Linked DNA regions of Homo sapiens. The main gene of each other region encodes a partner of the protein of the gene in region 3 in a complex. Each region holds a gene or a part of one and is shown on either strand. Other genes may lie near its edges.

Region 1 (7,784 bases), on a different chromosome or scaffold from region 3:
GAACTGGAAGCCCCGAACCCGCCGTCAGTCTGGACCGCGGCATCCCTCCCTCTCCCCGCGCATACACATCAAACGGGAGCATCTCTGATCCCTTTGGGGACCGGCTGCCCAGGAGGGGGTGCCGGGAGCGCCCTCGGTCTCCGGGGATTCCCTCCCTTTCTCCCTGGCCGCGGTCCTCCGAGCGTTCGCCTCTTCCCGGGCCCGGTGGCTGGGAATCCGGAAGCCTGGGTCCGAGCCTGGCCCCTCCTGACCCTCTCCTCTCCTTGCCATCCCTCGCGCTCTCCACACCTCCCCTTCCCCCTCTCCATCTCGCTCTTGCTTCCTCTTCGGGATCCCGGACTCCACGTCCCAGCGCTCCCCACCCCCCGTTCCCAGGCGGTGACAGCGGGCTCCAAGTGACAGGCACTCGGCCGCTCCCGCCCTCCCTCCCCGCAGGCGAGCGAGGCGCTCCCCTCCCCCTCCTCCCGGGCCTGGTGGAGGAGGCGGAGGGCGAGCGCCCGCGGCGTCGCACAAAGGGGCCGGGGCGACCTCCCCCACCCTTCCCCCAACCCCGTGCGCTGGCTGCCTTGACCTTGAACATCGAGGGCTGGGGGCGGGGGTGGGGGGTGGGGGGAGAGAGGGAGAGAGGGAGCGCCCCCCTACCCCACCCACGAGAAGGGATGCGCCTGCTGGCTGGACCAGAGGCCGCCAGTTGCTTCTGGTTTCTGGCGGGAATGGGGGTGGGAGGTGGAGGGTGGGAGTTGGGAGAGGAAGGGGGGCAGGGACTTAGAGGCAAGCGCCTACACGTGTGGCTTCGCCGTGAGCAGGGTGCCGGGAGCGGGTGTGTGGGGCTCGGGTCCGTGTGAGGTGGTGTATGATGGTGACACCCCTCTGCTGCCCTCTCACCCTAAGTGGCACACACAGACAGCTGTCTCTCCTGTGAGGGGACATCCGCAAAATGGCTGGGAACGGGGCTCTTGTGCAGGTTGGTGGATCTACAGGCGATGGGGCCCCTCACCCTGACCCTGGCCCAGACCCCTGGGAGGAGGTGTGCTACAGCCGTGAGCAGGGGCCCAGCTACAGTAAGCCTGGACTGGGAGGGCCCTACCCCTCTGTGCCCTTCCCTTCCAAAAGGTCTCTGTGGGGGTGAAGGTGGGGACTCCCTGGCTCCTGAAAGAATGTGAGTCAAATCCCCTGGGGAGAAGGAGCTGCAGGGTGCCGCCCTCGGAAGTTCCGACTGCCTGAGTTCCAAAACCAGCTTGAGCCACGAATGTTCCCTGCCGTGAGCCTCAGTTTTGCCATCTGTGTATGGGGGCTTCTAACAGCCCTTACCACCCGATGGGACTGTCGTGGGGCTAAGGCCATCTTTGTAAAGCAGTTAGCACAGAGACTGACACTGACCAAATGTAGTGATTATTATTAGTAGTATCAATATTGATTTATGAAATTGATTTCTACTGTGGGCCAGCTCCCACACAGGGCATTGGGGGATGGGGCAGGAGGATTGTTTGGGCCAGGGAGAGGACTGGGAGTTCAAGTGTGTAGGAGAGTATGTGGGAGTGGTGTGTGCAGGTGGTTAGGGCAGAAGGAAAGAAAGGAGAGCCCGCTGCAAGTGTCAGCCTGCGTCTGTGGGTAGATATCCTGCTGGTGGGCCGGGCATGGTGGCTTATGCCTGTAATCTCAGCACTTTGGGAGGGCAGGGTGGGCAGATCACTTGAGCTTAGGAGTTTGAGACTAGCCTGGCCAACACAGGGACACCCTGTTTTTACAAAAATACAAAAATTAGCCGGGTGCGGTGGCACAGGCCTGTAGTCCCAGCTACTTGGGGGTTTGAGGTGGGAGGATCGCTTGAGCCTGGGAGGTGGAGGCTGCAGCGAGCTGTGTTCATGCCATGGCACTCCAGCCTGGGCCATCGAGTGAGACGCTGTCCAAAAAAAAAAAAGAGAAAAAGAGAAAGAGGAAAGAAAGAGAAGAAAAGAAAGAAAGAAAGAAAGGAAGGAAGGAAGGAAGGAAGGAAGGAAGGAAGGAAGGAAGAGAAATAAAAGAAGAAAAGAAAAGAAAGAAAAATAGAAATTCTGCTGGTAGAGGAGGACTGTTAGGAAGGTCTGCACTCAGTGTCTACACTCGGGCTTCTCTTAATCAAATCGACATGAGAGTTTGGGGTGGGGCAGGAGTGAGTCTGCGTGTCTGAGGCTAGCGGTGTGGGAATCAAGTGTAAGAGGGTGTGTTACGGGACCTGTGAGCTAATGGGAGGTGAGAGAGGAAGGTGGGGTCACAGCTCACCGTGGGTAAGGTGTGAGGTGGCCACTATAGGGCCCTGGAGGCCAGAGTGATCGTAGGGGTGTCAGTGCCCCTCACTTAATCCCCTTGTCACCACTCCAGGCCATATGTGAATCAGAGACCTACCTCCTGTTCCAGGAGAGGGGCCGGCCAAGACCTTACCTGGCTTAGATGGGCGAGTTTGTGGAAAGGGTCTAAGACTAGAGGAGTGTGTGTGTGTGTGTGTGTGTGTGTGTGTGTGTGTAGAAGTGACCGTGAGTGTAGGAGGCCTTGACTGGATCTCTCTCTTGGGGGGATTTCAAGTGACAAAAATGGTGAAGGCTAGCGGGCCACTTCTGTCGGCTGGGGCGCCCCCTGGTGGATGAGGGCGTTTGTGGGCGTGTTAATTACAGCAGCCGCCCAAATTTGAATGCTGGCTCTACAGGGGTCCGGGTGGAAGAGGGGAAGGGGAAAGGGGGAGAAGGGGTGGGAAGGGGAAAGGGGGAGGAGGGGTGAGACGGGAGGGGGGACGGGGTGGTGGTGTTGCAGAGAGACTGGGTCAGTTTGTGACTCAGTGGGTCTGCTCACTCCCTGGGGATCTCTTCGGGTGGAGTCAGTGTGGGTGACAGTGGGAGAGAGAAGGAGGTCAGGACTACTTGGGGAGGGCCGTCAGGGGTGCCTGCCTCCTTCCTTCAGTCTTACCTTCAAAGAGCCGCCAGGGCATGCGGGCATGTGAGGTTACCTTCCTGTGCCTCAGATTCCTCACCTGGAAAATGCAGATAATAAAAGCATCCCGGGGTGAACTGTGCCCAGCACATGATGGGTGCATTTACTCATTCAACAAATATCTACTGAGCATCTATTTTTTTTTTTTTTTTTGGAGACAGGGTCTTGCTCAGTTGTCCAGGCTGGAGTGTAGTGGTGTGATCATAGCTCACTGCAGCTTCGATCTCCTGGGTTCAACCAATCCTCCTGACTCAGCCTCCTGAGTAGCTGGGACCATAGGCATGTGCCACCATGCCCAGCTATTTATTTTTTTTTTAGTAGAGACCAGGTCTCGCTATGTTGCCCAGGCTGTTCTCCTGAGCTCAAGCGGTCCTCTCATCTCAGCCTCCCAGATTGCTGGGATTACAGGCATGAGTCACGGCGCCCTGCTTACTTAGTTTTTTGTTTGTTTGTTTGTTTGTTTGTTTGCTTTTAGAGACAGAGTCTCGCTCTGCCACCCAGGCTGGAGTGCAGTGGTGAGACCACAGCTCACTGCAGCCTCAGCCTCCCAGGTTCAAGCTATCCTCCCACTTTAGCCTTGCAAGTAGCTGGGACTACACTGCTGCGCCATCATGCCCAGCTAATTTTAATTTTTTTTTGTAGACACAGGGGTCTGGATATGTTGCCCAGGTTGGTCTCAAACTCCTGGGCTCAAGCAGTGCTCTCATCTAGGCCTCCCGAAGTACTGGGATTGCAGACTGGAGCCATCGCACCTGGCCGCATTATTCTTTCTTTCTTATTATTTATTTATTTATTTTTGAGAGGGAGTCTCACTCTTGTTGCCCAGGCTGGAGTGCAATGGCACGATCTCAGCTCACTGCAACCTCCACCTCCTGAGTTCAAGTGATTCTCCTGCCTCAGCCTCCTGAGTGGGGGAGTATAAGCATGCGCCACCATGCCCGGCTAATTTTGTATTTTTAGTAGAGACTACTACCATGTTGGCCAGGCTGGTCTCGAACTCCCATCCTCAGGTGATCCACCTGCCTGGGCCTCCCAAAGTGCCGGGATTACAGGTGTGAGCCACTGCGCCTGGCCTGCCAGTCACCTCTTAAAATGCTTTACCTATATTTACTCATTTAATCCTCACAACACTCCAGTGAGGCATCATCCTCTTTTTACAGATGAGGAAACTGAGGCCCAGAAAGGTTAAGTCATTTGCCAAGGTCACATGGCCACCAAGTGGCAGAGCTAGGATTTGAACCCTGGAGGTGTGACTACTGTTTCTAACCTGCACTGCTGCTGTCAGGCCTGCAGAAGGCGTTGAGCAGGGCGGGGTGACCGTGAGCGTGGCTGCTGGGAGAGACAGCCCCGGGTGGGGTCTCTGGAGCCAGGAGGGACTTGGGTGGGGGGCGGTGAGGGGGTGTCTGCTGGAAGCATGTTGGTGAGAAGTCTGTGTGGGCACCTGGGAGGTGTCTCTGCGTCTCTTAGTATTGCAGTGTGTGTGCGTGTGGCTGTGTGAGTCCGTGCGAAGGTGTGTGAGTAGGAGTGTGTGGGAGGCTGTGAGTATCCGCGTGAATGTGTGTGTAAACTGCCATGCGTGGGCGTGTGCGAGTCCAGGTGTGCATGTGGTTGTGTGCACGCGAGAGCAGGATATGTGGACGAGTGAGGGCGGGTGAGTGACGGTGCGTGCCCCGGGCCCCTCCTCCGCGCCGTCCCGTCCCCGCGGGGTCCCGGGGGCCCCCTGGCCTGGGACTACCACTCCCAGCATGGCCCGGGCGGGCCCGCCCCGTCGCCGCGATTGGCCGTGGCCCTCGTGCTCCCGCCCCCCGGGAATGAATGGATGGGCGGCCTCAGCGCCCGCCCGACCGCTGGGAGGACCGACCCGGCGGGGACCTGCTGGGGGCAGGACCCGGGGAGCAAGATGGCCACTGTCATCCCTGGCCCCCTGAGGTGGTGCGGGCCGGCGGGAGGCGGAGAGGAAGCGCGGGCGGGTCTACGCGGGCCTGTGTGTGTGTGGCGACCGGGGGTGGGGCCGAAGGGGTGTCTGGGGGGCTGTCACCGAGTGCGGGGCTGCGCGGGGGTGCGAGAGTGTGTGACTGTGGGTCTCTGACAAGAATGGTGTCGGATGCACCGCTCCCTGGCGGGGTGGAGGGCGTGGGGGGCCTCCAGATTCTTTTTGGGGAAGGGAGACATCATCCCTTCCCTGCAACCCTCGGGTCTGGGAGAGACTGAAATGACCCGGGGGTGCGGGGGCCTTGGCAACTGGAGTGAAGTCCACACTACCTTTGTCTTGGGATGTGGAGTGTGTGTGTGTATCACTTATTTGTGTTCTGGTTTTTTTAAGAATTTTTGGGGGATAGGTGTGTGGACATGTGTCTGTTTCCTTTTATTCTGCACTAGATATCTTTGGATATTTGGGTCTCCCAGTGTGTGTCCGTGTCCTTTGGAACTATATGTCATTTGTCTTGTGTTCTGTGTTTTTGGGTATGTAGGGCTGCGTGTATTTGTGTGTAAATTTTTGTGTGACTATGGGTGGATTTGGCTGTTTCTGTGTTTTATATGTGTGTGTGTCTGTGTGGATGTGTGATATTTTAGATACTGGTTGCGCATCGTGCATCTTTGTAAATGTGTGTGTGTACCTGTGTGAATCTGTGTGATTTCTTTGTGTTGTGTGTCTGGATATTGTGTGTGTGGTTTGTGTTGTGTCTTTGGATACATGGGTAAGTGCCTAGGGGCGCAAGTGGTTTCTGTAGTTCCTGTCTTTTGACATGCTTGTGTCTTTGGATGCATGAGGGGGTGTATGTGTGTGTGGTGTGATGTTTCCATGTTGTGTGTCTTTGTGTGGGTGATGTGTTTCTGGTGTGTGTCTGTGGATATGTGATGTGTCTTTGTGCATGGTTATTTGTGTGATTTGTCTCCACACTATGGAACTTGGGATATTTGTCTTTTTCAGTAGATATTTATGTGTGCACGTGTGTGAGGTTTGTCTGTTTCTCCTTTGTGAGTATTGGGATTTGTCTCTCTTTGTGTGTGAATCCCGTGTGACTGTGTGTGATTTGTGTTGTGTGTCTGCATGTGTTCAGGTAGGGATACGTCCCGGTGTGTTTTTGTTTGTTTCTGTATCGTGTTTCTACTCATGAGCTGGGGGCCTGTTTGAGTCCCAGTTTGGGGGCCCCTGGGCCCTGTCCCCTTCCCCCAGCCTGGGTCCCGGAGTGGGAGGAGGGGAGAGGTGAGGCTGGAGGGGTCGGCCCACCCCTCCCGAGCCTGGGCGGCCCGGCAGCCGGGGAAGGGGTGCTGGGCGACCCTGTGCGCCTGCCCTTGCTGACAGCCGCCCGCCCGTTCGCCGCCCCTCTAGCCTAGGCGAGGACTTCTACCGCGAGGCCATCGAGCACTGCCGCAGTTACAACGCGCGCCTGTGCGCCGAGCGCAGCCTGCGACTGCCCTTCCTCGACTCGCAGACCGGCGTGGCCCAGAACAACTGCTACATCTGGATGGAGAAGACCCACCGCGGGCCGGGTACCGCCGGGAGGGCTGGCGCAGGGCGGGGCGGGGCCAGGCCGCCCCACCGCCGCCGCCCTCTCACCCCCCTCTCTCTCCAGGTTTGGCCCCGGGACAGATTTACACGTACCCCGCCCGCTGTTGGAGGAAGAAACGGAGACTCAACATCCTGGAGGACCCCAGACTCAGGCCCTGCGAGTACAAGATCGGTGGGTGCAGCCGCTGGGGCCCCCATCGGTGTCCCAGCGCCTGCTGTGTGTCCTAGCACTCGTCCATCACCTTTATCGCCTTCTAGCAAGTGTCTGCCTGGCTGGCTGTGTGTCTGTCTGCCCATGTGCGTCCCGGGTGTTTCCCAGAGATTCCACAGTTTCTCTGAGTCACTGAGTGGCGACTGCATCTCCTCCTACATGGGCCCAGGTGCCCAGTTGTTGTTATTTATTTATTTATTTATTTATTTATTTATTTTTGAGACAGAGTTTCACCCAGGCTGGCGTGCAATGGCGTGATCCCCCAACCTCCACCTAGCGGGGAGTTGAACCTTGAACCCGCAACTTCCGCCTAGCAGGTTCAAGCGATTCTGCCTCAGCCTTCCGAGTAGCTGGGATTACAGGCATGCGCCACCATGCCCGGCTGATTTTGTATTTTTAGTAGAAACGGGGTTTCACCATGTTGGTCAGGCTGGTCTGGAACTCCTGACCTCAGGTGATCTGGCCACCTCGGCCTCCCAAAGTGCTGGGATTACAGGTGTGAGCCACCGCGCCTGGCCTGTTGTTTTTTAAATAGAGGCAGGGTGTTACTATGTTGCCCAGTCTGGTCTTGAACTCCTGAGCTCAAGGGATCCTCCTGTCTCAGCCCTCCAAAGTGCAGGGATTATAGGCGTGAACCACCATGCCCCACCAAGGGTCCCAGTGGTATTGGAGGGCATAGTGATATCTGTTAGGTGTGTGTGGGTGTATGGAGTTGCTGACTGTGTCCCTTCCCCTGGGAACTGGGATGGATCAGTCTGCCTGTATTTTTTTTTTTTTTGAGATGGAGTCTGGCTCTGTCACCCAGGCTGGAGTACAGTGGCGCAATCTCAGCTCACTGCAACCTCCGCCTAGTGGGTTCAAGCGATTCTCCTGTCTCAGCCTCCTGAGTAGCTGGGATTACAGATGCACACTGACATGCCCGGCTAATTTTTTTGTATTTTTAGTAGAGACAGGGTTTCACCATGTTGGCCAGGCTGGTCTCGAACTCCTGACCTCAGGTGATCCACCTGCCTTGGCCTCCCAGAGTGCTGGGATTACAGGCTTGAGTCACCATGCCCGGCCATCTGCCTGTATTTTTTTCTGTGGGTGCCTGAG
Region 2 (7,021 bases), on a different chromosome or scaffold from region 3:
CGGCCTCCTTCTCCCTTTCCTCCTGCCTTTTGCGGGCCTGTTCCTCTGCCTGTGCAATCTCAGCTGCAATTTTCTCCATATCCACTTCTACTTTCAGACCGCACAACTAATCAGAAAAAAACAGAACTCCGTAATGTTTTTTCCTTATAATTTTTGAGCCAGATATATTCTTTCAAAAGTTGGTTTTCTTGCCTATAAACTATATATATATATCTATACACCTGTATGTGTGTGTGTGTGTGCCAAAAAAATGTGGTTCTAGGTCTTCTCTGAAACTCTTGGGTCTACAAGAAAAAACAGCAGCTCTAGCAGTTGTATAATATAGGATATTCCAGAGCAGCTGGTGAGGCAAAATAGTGAAAGTTCTGGGGTATACATAAGGCTTCCGTTTTACATTTTGGGCTACCAACTAGATTTCCTTGTCTGAATGCAAAGTGCAAATTATAAATTACATTTAATGACGACATTTGATGAATAAATCACAATAAAATGAAAGTAATTAATGACTGTATGGGAGTTTAACATATCAGAGGGCTCTAGCATTTACAGGCCTAGAAGATATGTGTATACTCTATGATATTTCAAATTTATTGCAATTTTGCCAGAGAATGGGAACAATCTTATAAAAAAAGGATCCTACAGGTTTATAATAAAGTTAGCCCTGTTTCAAAGTGAACAACATTCAATAAAAACACTATTTTGGAAAAAAGAATGAGGAAAAATAAAGTAACAGGTATAGTGATAAAAGTATAGTTAACATATTAAACAGATACCCTTTTAAGTTCATTGTTAAATGAATCTGTGCTTTCCAGGAATTTCCTCTTCTTCTCCTGGTGTCGTTCCTCTATTTGAAGAAGTTCAGCTTCTAGTTTTCGCTGCAAGACAGGATCAGGCTTCATAATTGTGTCTCATTTTTTAATGGTCCATACTTTCAAACAGTGTACCAAATAATGTTTTGAACTTTAGATCATTTATCACATGAGTCTAGCTAAGATTTAAAAAATACAAAATGCAGCACAAAGAAATGATTATGATCAATAGGTAAATGTTAAAGAATACTGTTTCAGGCCTGAGCAATTCCTTGGGAAAAAATATTTAGCATAGCAGTAAAGATTGATAGGATGCCTCAAAATTCTTAAGTTCACACGTATTTCTTAACGAATATACTTTCCATTACAAGGTTCTATATTATAGTTTTTAATGACAAACTTATTAAACATCTGGGAAAGGTCCACTTCCTTAAACCTCTTCTCCAAATCAGGAACAGGTTAGATTGACATATTTAACAGGTAGATTTAGGCATGGTGTAGGAATCATATCACCTGGGATTTGTGGTATAGGCACATCTTATTGAAATGAATGTTTTATGACTTTACCTGATGAACCATTAAGGACTGGACCTGCCGTTTGAGGACCTGCATTCTAGCTGTTGTGACAACTGACCGAACGTCTGGCACCACACTCTCACTAAGAATTTCACTGATGAGGCGGTGGTTTCTCTGGAAACGGGCGGTGGCTGTATGCTTCATTGAAAAGCCATCATCATAATCTGGAGTGAACAAATTGTTCTGGAAATCAGGTCACCAGTAACCATAAAAAGGAGTGTAACAATGTTAACACTTAATTACCAACGAACTATGGCCCTCACTGGCCTAACAAGTGGACCTGCCCAGCGTCATGGGAGCACTGGGGCAGTTACTTGATAAAAACCATACAGAGGACGTAATGTGTTCATTGGCCAAGGTAGTAATTTATCTCACAGTCTTTAAGTGATAATGTTGTGTCTGAGAAGGATTTGGCTAAAACATAAACGAGATACAACATGTCTCTTCTGGCTTCGGAATCAATGTGAAGGCTGTATGTGATGGCAGTAATTGAAATTCTGCCCAATGTTTCACTCTCTTGGTAGTAACTTAAGGCATTTAACAACTAATGAACAACATATGAACTGGGCAGTGACTTTGTCACTTGTAGCACTTTAAAAATGAATGAAAATGCCCATTTGTAAAATTATGACAGCAGAGAATACATCACCTCTAACAATATTCAGTTTCCCAGGCCCTCAAGTAATTTTATAGAAGAAAAATAAATGTCTGATTCCAAATTTAATTTTTGTCAGTTTACACTTAGCCAGCTGTTGTCAGTGTGTAATGGTATGACCCAAGTTCATACAGTATGGGTCTGGTTTATATGCTTCTGTTTCGTTTTGAGACAGAATCTCCCTCTTGTTACCCAGGCTGGAGTACAGTGGCCCAGTCTCAGCTCACTGCAACCTCCACCTGCCAGGTTCAAGTGATTCTTGTGCCTCGGCCTCCCAAGTAGCAGGAATTACAGGCGCATGACACCACGCCCGGCCAATTTTTGTATTTTTAGTAGAGATGGGATTTCACCATGTTGGCTAGGGTGGTCTTGAACTCCTGACCCCATGTGATCTGCCCATCCTGGCCTCCCAAAGCGCTGGGATTACAGGTGTGAGCCACTGCACACACACTACAGGCTTATTTTTAATAGCTATCTAGTGTTTCCTTAATCTCAGTCTTTGCTCTATCACCTTCATAGTTTTTCATATATCTACTAACAGCCTGTACTATCGTTTACTTAATATTTTTCTTTAAACTAACTCACTTAAAAAAAAAAAGAGCTTTCTCTTTAGTAATACATATTAAAACAAACGCTCCTCTCTGAACCACTTAATCACCTCAGTGACCCACCAGACAGGGAGGAACCACACTTAAGAAAACCTTGTTACAGGGGAAACCCTGTTACAGAGGCCTATGTTGCGCTGCTATGTCAGTTTAGCACCTCCCTTATTGTCTGGCACTTAAGTAGTTCCTAAAATTCTCATTATTATAAATACTACAGCTAAAAACTGTTGTTTTTGTAAAAAGTTAAAAAAATTACTTTTGTTTCCTTTTGAGTAATTTCTTTAGGAAATAAACTTCTGAAATTAAAACTACTGGGTAAGATACAGTTTTTTTAAAACTCTGTAACCTTTCTACTTTTTAAGAGTTTTTCACCTTTAGGGTTATATATGGTACATCTGTGCTACATCTGTCTAAGTTATCTGTTTTTGTTGTTAGCTTTTGTTTTCTTCTTTCATTTATATGGCCCCAGTGTTGACCACAGATGGGGACATAAGGTCTAAGCAATTTGGGCTTGTTCTTCTTTGCATGTTAGTCGTCTGCTTCCTTTTTTGGGGGAATGGCTTCTCTGGTTATGATCTAATTGAACAGCTATTTATCCTATGATGAAGAGGCTCTCACTGAATAAAAGCCTTCATTGTCTTGTGTGGATAATTGCACATGCCCTCTTTTTTTTTTCTTTTTTTTGAGACTGGTTATTGCCCTGTCATCCAGGATGGAGGACAGTGGCATGATCATAGCTCACTGCAGCCTTGAACTCCTGGGCTCAACTGATCCTCCTACCTCAGCCTCAGCTGGAGTAGCTGGGACTACAGGCACAAGCCGCCATGCCCAGCTAATTTTTAAGTATCCTGTAGAGATAAGGTCTTGCTGTGTTGCCCAGGCTGGTCTCAAACTCTTGGCCACAAACGATCCTCCTGCTTCAGTTTCCCAAAGTATTGGGATTACAGGCGTGAGCCATGGCGCCTGGCAATGTCTATCTTTTGATAGTCCTCTGTTAAAGAAGTCAGTAGCTGTTGTACTTCATGCAGATGCCACCTTTCTGTTATGTACATTTGACATACATTTCCACCTCCCAAGTATTCCTCTTTCTAATCATTTTCGTACTGGTATGCTAAAGACATTCTCATATTGGCATCTTAATTGCTACCTGAATTTACTAGCAACTTTAAGACCCAATCTGAAAGTTAAAAACATCATAGGCCCAAGTTTCAGACTGTTTCTGAGTGAATCTCTTTAGTCCTTCTCAGTGTTCATGGTGTTAATGAAAGCTTTAGTTATTTTCTACTTACGTTGCTAGCCTTTGTTTCCTCTTGTACTGACCTCCATCCTCCCAATATCTGTAGACTGGATTGTCTTCTGATTTTTAGTTCTGTATGTTTCTCTTGCATTAATCACCCCATTTGAGTAATTAAAGTGTGAGGATGCTAGTGTGTCTTTAGCACTGCTGATTCTGCTTAACATTCAATACTGTTTCTATTCCATATTCTATTCTCTATAGTATTACATTCCACTGTCTGTATTTATGAGAACATTTGACAATATTCCAGTACATTATTTTTAAAAATGACTTCTGTTTTTCCCCACTTTTATCAACTTATTCTTGTCTTCAGGTACTATTATTGCTTCCTCCCTCATTGATATTGTCTTTAAAGTTCTTATAGCCTTCCTCTTTGTTACTGCTACTTTAAGATGGGATCTTAAATCATTTTCCTGATGTTCTTGTCGCTTGCAGCTAAAGCTTCTAACCTTTTGCACATCATAGCAGTATACAGAGAAACTATTAATGTTTATACAGCACACTAGATATGTGGTTGAGTGTGTTCACACTGCAGGTGGCTATCTCTGGGTCTCCTCGCAGCTTCAGACCCTGCCTGGCTGCACAAGACCAGAACAATCAGAACACCTGCTAACTACTCATACAGAATGGCAATTAGGAAGCTCTGCCATTCGTGTGCATGTATACAATTTGTATGGGTATACCCTCATGTACACCCATACAAATAGTAGCATGAGCTATATTTATACATTCTTATTGGATTTCTGAATTAAATGGAAAGGAAACTTCATGTTTCCACATACTCATTAGCTTCTCCCTTAAGAGCCTTTAATTCAGCGAATTTAGTGAACCAATAAGAAAACAAGATATAATTAGAATGCATTTAGCTTTTTAAAAGCAGATGAGGCAAAATCCTGATTGTGATTTAAAAACCTTTCGTGCATTTTGAGTACAAAGATTTTGATAAACAATCAATAATTTTTGCTATTTTCTGCACTGAAAAGGATATTTCTTTTTCTTGTGGGAAATTCACATACAAATCTTACTCAATATAACCAAAATACTAAGACGATACTTAAATTATACTTTCTTTTCCATTTAGGATAAGAAATAAAAACTTATACTTAAGAGATTTCTCATATCTTAACTCACAGAGAAAGCATAAACAAAACCCCACTTTTTTTCTTTTACCATCTGGATCTTCAGCAGGCTGAATGCTCATGTACGGTTCTCCTTTCTCCATGCGAGATTGTCTCTGTCGACTTTCTTCCTCTAAAGCAGCTTCTGCACGACTTTTTGCATTTATGTAAGCAAGGTACGCGGGGGAATTATGATAGGCCTTCATAGATTCATTGTACTCTATCTGAAATTCAAATGTTTTTTGGTTTTATAATTAACATTTTGCAGGTTATAATGCAGACCTATGTTATCTCACTTGAATATCAAAAGATATGATGTAAACAGGGTGTTGGGATAATTATCTCCTTTTTACAGGCAAGAAATCTGAGGCCTTGAGAAACTGACTTGACTCAGGTAGACAGAGCCTCAGTACTGCATCAGTGTTCTGACCAAATCTTATGTTACTTTTATAAATAGTAAGCCAATGTTTTATGTACTTTACACATTATCTATCCCACTGTGAGCCCCTACCCTACCTTTTCTGCTTCGTATTCGTTTAAATATTCTTGTTTTTCTTCATCAGTGAGATCTCGCCACATGCCACCAATAATCTTGCCAATCTCCCACAACTTTAGGTCAGGGTTGGAAGCCTTTACTTGGTCCCAGACCTTAAAAAGAAAACAGATGAAATGTTAATACTGATGTCTAAACGTATAGACCTTTAAAAATAGTTTTTAATGTGGAAACTTTTCAACATACAAAGCAGAGAAAACAGTATCAAATTTCTAGGTACTCATCAGCCTACTTCAAAAATTATCAAGAACTGGCCAATCTCAAGTTATCTTTGCCCTACTGGATTACTTTAAGATAGATCTCAGACATCACGTCACTCACTTATAAATACTTCAATTTGATAAGCAAGAATATCTCCAATCACTACAGACACTTAGGATGAGTTACTTCAATAACATAGTCTACGTCTCTAAAAGTTCATGTGAATTTAGAAGAAAAGTGCTTAATTTGCATAACACGGTACATCATATTATCAAATACAAATATAATAGTCAAGATCAAAAGGTTTAACATTTCTAGATAGTGGTTATAATGCTCTGCCTTTTAATAAAGATATTGGCTACTTTTTTTATTTTAAGAGTAATGTAGGCTCATCACCAAAAAAAAAAAAAAAAAAAGGAAAACTTGAGGAAAAGAAAATAAAAACTACCATAAGCTTACTGCTTAGAGATAATTATTGTCTTCTGTGTTTTCCCCCTTCAAACTAACATGTGGTTGCTATTATTTTTATAAAAATGAGATATTAATTCATGTAGTCTTGCAGTCCTCCTTCACTTAACATTTTCCTCACGTCATTAAATATTCTCCAAAAGAAATGACTTTAATGGCTATAGAACATTCTATCTTAAGGATTTTAACAGTTTATTTAATCACGCTCCTCTTGTTGGATTTTAGTTCTGGAATTTTGAAATCAGAACTAATTGCTTTAAAAACCGTATTTTTTTGGACCTTTCCTCTGAATATGCACAGAAAAGCTGGCTAAGCCGATCTAAAGTTGGATGTTAAGCAAAGAAGCAGCAAAGACAGTGTCCTCACTCCTTACCAGGTCCTAAGCACCTACCTTTCTGCTGTACCTCATGTAGGGCATCAGCGGCTTATCTGGTGGCTTTGGGGGTTTTGGAATCGTGATACCAGAGGATGCCTACGAAAGAGTTAAATACATTCATTATTCAACTGTAAGGAGTTCACTGGCAAACTGAAAAGAGAGTCCCTTAAAAAATTCTAATGCGCCTTTCTTCTATTCGTCCAAATATTTTCTTCACTGAAAATAGCTATCACTGCAAATTCAGAAATGTTCAAAAGAAAATGACTTTAAGCACATAATTTTTAAATGTTTTACTTAGCAGTTTATTGCCAATGCTTTGACAACCTGGCTGCAAGAACAAATAAAATATTACACAGTAACCCA
Region 3 (7,021 bases):
CATAATTTTTAACAGAATTCTTAATTTTCAGCTTTTATAGTTGAGGTCCAGGAAGGTTCTCGGAAAGTGTATCTTAATTATCTATCATTTTATTGCAGTGGTTTTGGTATCAGGCAAATTGAGGTTCCAATCTTGGCCCCCTTCTTTACTAGCTCTGTGGTATCTCCAGGTGTCTTCAGTTTTCCTCATCAGCAAAATGGGACCATTATAACTTTTACCTTACAGAGGCGTGTCTGTGTGTGTAAGAGAGAGACAATTAAATAACATTGTACATTAAAGGCACTTAGTGCTGTTAATATTAGCCTACTTTAACTTATTACTTATTATTATTCTTTCTTTGTTGAAATCTAGTTCAGTACAGTTTGCCTCAGATTTAGGGGATGTAGTTCTAAAAATAGTCTTAAATGGCATATAATTATTTTGTCAGAATAGGATTCAGGTGAACTCTAAAACCAGCAGTTTATATATCTAACAGTAATAGTATCCCAAGTGAATGGCTAAAGTCAGAGGTCTTTTATTTTCTACTCTGCCTTTATTATGAAGAAGTACATGCAGTTATATTTTTGATGGTGTGTAAAACGAGAATCCTCAACATCCTTTTCTAGAAACTCTTGGTTTTTGAGTACTATTTACTGCTGGCCCTGATTTTTTTAAAACAGCCTCATTTGTATTTTCTTTTCTCAAGCAAGCTCTGCTCACAGAGGAAGTGGTTGTGGCTGGCAGAGCGCTTTCTGAATGTTTAGGGTTGGCTGATTTCTGTGGCATCAGCACCTAAAACTGTTCTTGCTCACTGCGCTTTAATGGCTGTCGTCATCAGCATCTTGGCAAAGAAGACAAATGGTCTGGTTGCCTTAGGACAGAACTAGAAGTTCGGAAGAAAAAAGTCTGTGCTCTCAGCTCTGCATTCTGTCTGGCTGGGAGTTAGAAAGCTTGTCAATTGGTTCTGTCTCTTATATTCTCTCTCTGCTAAGAGTGAGCAAGGACATTTGACTTCCCCACTAGATGCAGGGTGAACCTTCTTTCCCTAGTGTTAGATAGAGGTTATGGAGGAAGCCACATTGTTAAGTAACATATACCTGTCTGCATTAATGCAAAGGTAGCTTTTCTCTGCTTAACATCAAAAATTCTAGTTGGGTGTTAGAGATCAACTATCAGTATCTGGAATATGTTTTGCCCCGGACTTAAACCTAATGTCATTGTTTATCATTTAAGATTAAATTGTAATGTGTTTTTCCCCTGCCCCCTTTTCCCCATTTTATTGTTTCCTTTAGACTTCAGGCCCGCATAGCTCATAGGATACAAGAACTGGAAAATCTGCCTGGCTCTTTGCCACCAGATTTAAGAACCAAAGCAACCGTGGAACTAAAAGCACTTCGGTTACTCAATTTCCAGCGTCAGGTAATACATTTTCCCCAGTGAATCTGAGATGTAGGAAATAAATGTAATTGTTCCTAAAGTGTTATCTGTGTTGCCTTTAGTCTATTCAATATTGTTACAAAGATATAAAGATATAAATATAGTAAAATAGTGAATCTTTTAGACCAACAGCTTACAACTAAAAATGATGAAGATGAACTGCTTATTATTCTGGTTTTCTCTTCTGTATATGGGAAAGAGTTTTTCCTCCTGTACTATGGGTTACAAAGTCAGAGTTATGGCGTTTTGTTACCATGGATGAAAAACCTTGGGAACAAGTGGGGTAGCTCATGTTTGCTTTTATGACTCCAAGGAAAAACCAGAAGGTAGTGGATTGGAGCTTCTTTGTAAGCACAGATGTAAAGTGCTTGCCACGACTGTGAAAATAATTTTAACAAATATGGTAGCCACGCTACTGAATTAGTGGTTCATCATTTATAGAAATACATAAAGCAATGTCTTATAGCTTATTTATTCACCGATGTCTAAGTTTGGAGTGTTTGATCACATCAGGCTCATGTATTGACTAATCAGTAAATTATCTGCTCTTGTAGTTTACAGCAGTTATTAAAAGCCAGTATAATGACCTATTTTCTGATTTCTAAATTAGTAAGAGACAAGTGGAATGAGTTAGAGCTAATTTTCACTTTGGCGAGTTTTGCCTTGTGGACTGAAAAGGTTCAAGTTTGCTAGTCCGCAGATTGCCTCACTAACCCAAAGGGGATAAGGAACGTTTCATTGTTAGTCAGATGGGTTTGTTTTGTTAAAGTCTGGAACATGCGAAATGAATAATTAATGAGTCAAAGTAGTTTGGAAGTATTGACTTGGTTTGTTGGAGGATGTGACTAAAATCACAGGCCACTCCAGTTGCTATTGTGGTAGGAATTTGGGTGTATATTTGCCTTACCGGCTATAATCTCACAGATGGACATTAGTGGTGGGTAGGTGCTACTTGGCTCTTGGTTTGTGAGAGTAGATTTCAGCTTAAATTTTAAAAAGAAAAGGGAAAATTCTCTGAGTTCTGTTTACTTCTTTCTTATTGGTGACCTCATAAGATGAATTAATAAAGTGCTGGATAAAATCTTACTAAATGAATATTAACCAAGTATATTTTCCGGAATATGTTTATGTTCAAATTAGCGTTGCCATGACGGACTCTTATTGATTTCTGATTTTTGTTTGATATTATTTTAAAAATCTGTTATTTATGAAGCTTCCTAATTAAATTAACTGTAACTAATGATATTTCAGATGCAGTGGAATGATTATTTAATGTGTATTCTCCAGTCCCTACCCCCTACCACCACATAACATGCAATACAGATAAAAGTATTACATTTGTGATCTGAAATAAGTTCATGATATAATATAAAATGTAGATCTCTTGGAAAGAAGATCATTATTGGAGTGGGAAGAAGCCAAAACTCATATTTCCCATCCTTTGTATGAGACTATGAATTAACGTTGTTTGAGTACCTGCTGCTACCACACGTGAAAGTAATTCTTTTATTCTTTTTTTGGAGCATCATTAAAATTAATCTTTAAACACAAAGAGAATGTTAACATGACACTTAAAACAAAGCGGAAAATTTAAAAAGCTTATTTAGCTAATTGGTATCATTAGAATAATTAGAGAAAATGAAGTTATTTAAAAGGCAAGACAACATCTTTTCTTTCTTTTACTGTTACAGTACTATAATTGCTTTTGATTTGAATTATTTGGGGAGAAAAATCTTGTACCGTTCTTGAAAATATTGCATACATTTGGCATGATTTTAGTTCCTTCATTTAATACAAACCAAAGGTGATTGAGAAGCTTGTGGAGATTCCCCGCCCCACTCTATTCCATTAAATGCAACCGCGAGAAGGCCAGAGTTCAGGAACCTAGCTTCTGTTAGGGAAGGCTGTCTAACTGCTCTCTTCTTGACAGCTGAGACAGGAGGTGGTGGCCTGCATGCGCAGGGACACGACCCTGGAGACGGCTCTCAACTCCAAAGCATACAAACGGAGCAAGCGCCAGACTCTGAGAGAAGCTCGCATGACCGAGAAGCTGGAGAAGCAGCAGAAGATTGAGCAGGAGAGGAAACGCCGTCAGAAACACCAGGTTCTTAGACCCTGGGCTTTGCTCACCCTCACTTTGGCAGAGCTGTCCAATGAATTCATCAAATGGGGTCAGAATGACTGAAAAATGGACCCTTGTGGGTGGTGGGGACATCACAGAACAGAACGGTTCCTTGACATGTACATAATCCAACCACATCATTTTATAGACAAAGACGCTTAAGCCAGGACGTATAAATGACTGCCCAAGGTCATACAATTGCTTAGCAGCACAATGAGGTTTAGTATTGTCTTAGTTTGTCTGGGCTGCTATAAAAAAATAGCACAAACTGGGTGGTTGATGAGCAACAGAAGTTTATTTTTCACCGTTCTGGAGGCTGGAAGCCTGAGATCAGGGTACTAGCATGGCTGGGCTCTGGTGAGGGTCTTCTTCTGGGTTGCAAACTGTTAACTTCTCCTTGTTTTCTTACGTGGTGGAAGCAGGCCAAGAAAGCTCTCCGGGCTTCCTTTATAAGGGCACTAATCCCATTCGTAAGGGCTCTACCCTCATGACCTTATCACCTCCCGAAGACCCCACCTCCTAATACCATTACATTGGGAGTTAGCATTTCAATATATAAATTTTGGGAGGACACAAACATTCAGTCCATAACAGGTGTCATGTTCATAATCCCATGGGAAGTTTTTGAATGGGTGGGCATAGGTGGATTTCCTAGAGCAAAATTCTGGGAGCAGGAACTTGGAAAAGGAAAGTAGAAAGCAAAAAGTTATTTTCATAACAAATATAATAGTGTCCTGGCTTCTCTGAAGGGCCTAGTTGAATGTTTCACAGAGGCAAATATTAAAAACATTCCTTTCTGGGGGTTTGGAAATATTTTGATGTAGGATTTGATTTCCTGTCATAGTCCTGTAAATTGTATTTGTTTTCCTGTGCTTAATTTAGTGCTTAGCTTAGTTTCCTTTTGAAAAAATGTTGGATTTTAGTGTAAATAGAGTATATATTTAAAAAGTGGATACAAATTCTGCATGGCAATTTTAACTTTGTATAAACTTATTTTGTGTCATACTCTAGGGTAGTTAGAGCAGAAAAACATTACTTTTGTGACATACTTTTTGCTGGAAATACTCATGTTCCTCAGGTTTATTTTGGAGTGAATGAGTGGTTTGCTTTACATTTTATCATTGCCATTTTGTAGGTCTCTTTCAGTCTTCGATCTTTCCATTCTCATGTGGCCACACCCTCAAGGCTAAGGAGGCTTCTCTTGCTAAAGCTTACAACAAAAGGAACCCGAAGAGGCTATCTTTCCCACCAGCCCCATGGCCCACACCTTAACTGCAGAGACACCAGGGCACCTATCCCCAAACAGATTCTAGTCTTCCTATGCTGTTAAACACACACTGAGAGTTTTCTTGGACAACACTGATAGCTCAGAGGACACTGGTCATTGGATTTTAAGTATCCTTTTCTTCCCTTTTTGGATCTTCTAGGAATACCTGAACAGTATTTTGCAACATGCAAAAGATTTTAAGGAATATCATCGGTCTGTGGCCGGAAAGATCCAGAAGCTCTCCAAAGCAGTGGCAACTTGGCATGCCAACACTGAAAGAGAGCAGAAGAAGGAGACAGAGCGGATTGAAAAGGAGAGAATGCGGCGACTGATGGTAAGGAACTCCCTGCAGGAGCCCAGGAAACTACTCAACCCACGTCCGTCTGCAATGAGACCATTAAATATGGTGGTAGTAGAAGGAAAAAATGAAAACTGCTTATCAAAAATTTTAGTAAATTTCTTTGAACCTTAGGGAGATGAAGTAAAAACTTTTTCTCTTTCCTGGAGAATGCATGCCAAAAATCTAGGGGGATGACTGATGCGTATAGTATTTCTGTGTCCTGGGGTGGCATTGCGCGGTACACATTACAGCTTCTCTCATAAAAGCAGGTACTGTATTTTGCATGAGTTTGATAACCAGATCTGGAAGGATGGCAAATGCAGTTCTTTTAAAAATATGGCCTCTTTGAGATGAATGACCACGTTTTTTGGAATGAATAACACATTAAGTCGTGTCTTCAAATCTAAGAAGGTCTGTGTTTTGAAGCCTCTGGTGCTTATCTTTCTTTTTTAATGGCAGAAATTATTCTCTAACAGTGTAATAAGTGATTTTTAAGTTGATTTTGAAATGTTGCCTTTTTTGTGATAGCCTTGTTATGGTCAAAGGCTATTCATGGATTATTACATTTGCACTGTTATTTTTTAATGGGCATATAAGCACAGAAGAGATAGGTTTATATCATTGGCCTGAGTATTTGTTTTTATTGACCATTTATTTTTGGAATTGGACCTCAGAGCACACTGTGGATTTTAGAAAAGCGTGTGTGTGTGTGATGTTATAATTATAGGAGACCTGCAGATTCTATCTAGGACGTAATGCCTGCATAGATGAAGATAAGGTCATTAGTCTCAGACCATAATTATGTTCCTGGAAAATTCTAAGTGACACTGTCTTCCTGGCTGGTATTACAGTTTGCATTTTTTTCATTTTTTGGATTCCAGAGAGTAAACACCATGTTTTAAAAGCCTCTGTGTGCAGGTACTACTACATCTTACTACCCTATCCTGCCTCCCTCTCCATACCAGGGAGAGAGGACTGTCCGAGAGGTTTCTGACTAGACCGTTTTTGTAGTAATTTGATCACTAAGCAGTCAAATTTGTCTGACTCAACTGAAGTGAAACTATATTAGAACTTCAGTAACAGATTGGTTTGACACTAATGATTAGGCATTTGCAAATCATTAATTTTTGCAATTAAGTGATGGAATATACAGATAATAGAGAAACTGAAGTTTTTTATCACTCTTTCTTCAAGTGAGTTCAACCATAACCGAAAGCAATTAGAGTTATAATAGCATTTGAGGCTCTTGCTCATCCACAGGGCAGACGGCAGCTAGACTGAGTGATGAAGCTGCTGTCACTCAGGCAGATGCTAGAGTGACACCCCTGGACAAAAGATCCCAAGTTTTTGTTTTTGTTTTTGCAATGGAGTTGCCTCTTAAAGATTTTGCAGCTTGCTCCTTTTATCGTGGCATTACATGATAAAAATAATTTGGAGTGTCCTTTTATTGGGATACACAAAGAGATTTCTCTCAAAATGGCTTAGAGTACATCAGAGTTTTATTCTGTTTAACCTCATCATGTTGCTTAATGGGAGGTGGAGGTGGGAATTACTGTATCTATTTTATTGCTCAGCAGTACCAGACTTCAGGTGCTAAGTGACTTGTCTCCAGTCACCTGGGCCCATTACTCAGTGCAGATCTGTGGCCAAAAAAAAAAAAAAAAAAAAAAAAAAAAAAAATCCCCCAAATTTGATCTTTCCTGTTAACCACAAAGTTTGTAATGCCAAAAAGAAAGACTTTTTAAAATATAAGACATTATTTGTTAAAAGCCCATTTGATTCCTTGCCTTTAGTAGTACTTTTTGAAATATTTATGAATGAAAGGATATTATGTCTGGAATTTGCTTCAAGACAATTCAGTTTGGGTTTAGAAGAA

What was found. The genes of interacting proteins can lie anywhere in the genome.
Region 1: SMARCA2 (region 3) and DPF1 share a complex: the UniProt entries of both Homo sapiens proteins name them as parts of the neuron-specific chromatin remodeling complex.
Region 2: SMARCA2 (region 3) and SMARCE1 share a complex: the UniProt entries of both Homo sapiens proteins name them as parts of the BAF complex.

What each region holds. Positions count from the first base shown.
Region 1 is NC_000019.10:38,221,223-38,229,006, reverse strand, and holds the start of DPF1 (zinc finger protein neuro-d4), read left to right. Parts: upstream 1-4,784; 5' UTR 4,785-4,864; coding exon 4,865-4,893; intron 4,894-5,101; exon of another isoform or gene 5,102-5,251; intron 5,252-6,298; coding exon 6,299-6,459; intron 6,460-6,542; coding exon 6,543-6,650; intron 6,651-7,784. UniProt on the Homo sapiens protein: May have an important role in developing neurons by participating in regulation of cell survival, possibly as a neurospecific transcription factor. Belongs to the neuron-specific chromatin remodeling complex (nBAF complex).
Region 2 is NC_000017.11:40,630,819-40,637,839, forward strand, and holds part of SMARCE1 (SWI/SNF-related matrix-associated actin-dependent regulator of chromatin subfamily E member 1), read right to left. Parts: intron 6,755-7,021; coding exon 6,674-6,754; intron 5,709-6,673; coding exon 5,577-5,708; intron 5,285-5,576; coding exon 5,113-5,284; intron 1,550-5,112; coding exon 1,377-1,549; intron 876-1,376; coding exon 774-875; intron 107-773; coding exon 1-106. UniProt on the Homo sapiens protein: Involved in transcriptional activation and repression of select genes by chromatin remodeling (alteration of DNA-nucleosome topology).
Region 3 is NC_000009.12:2,053,326-2,060,346, forward strand, and holds part of SMARCA2 (SWI/SNF-related matrix-associated actin-dependent regulator of chromatin subfamily A member 2), read left to right. Parts: intron 1-1,271; coding exon 1,272-1,398; intron 1,399-3,346; coding exon 3,347-3,520; intron 3,521-4,965; coding exon 4,966-5,139; intron 5,140-7,021. UniProt on the Homo sapiens protein: ATPase involved in transcriptional activation and repression of select genes by chromatin remodeling (alteration of DNA-nucleosome topology).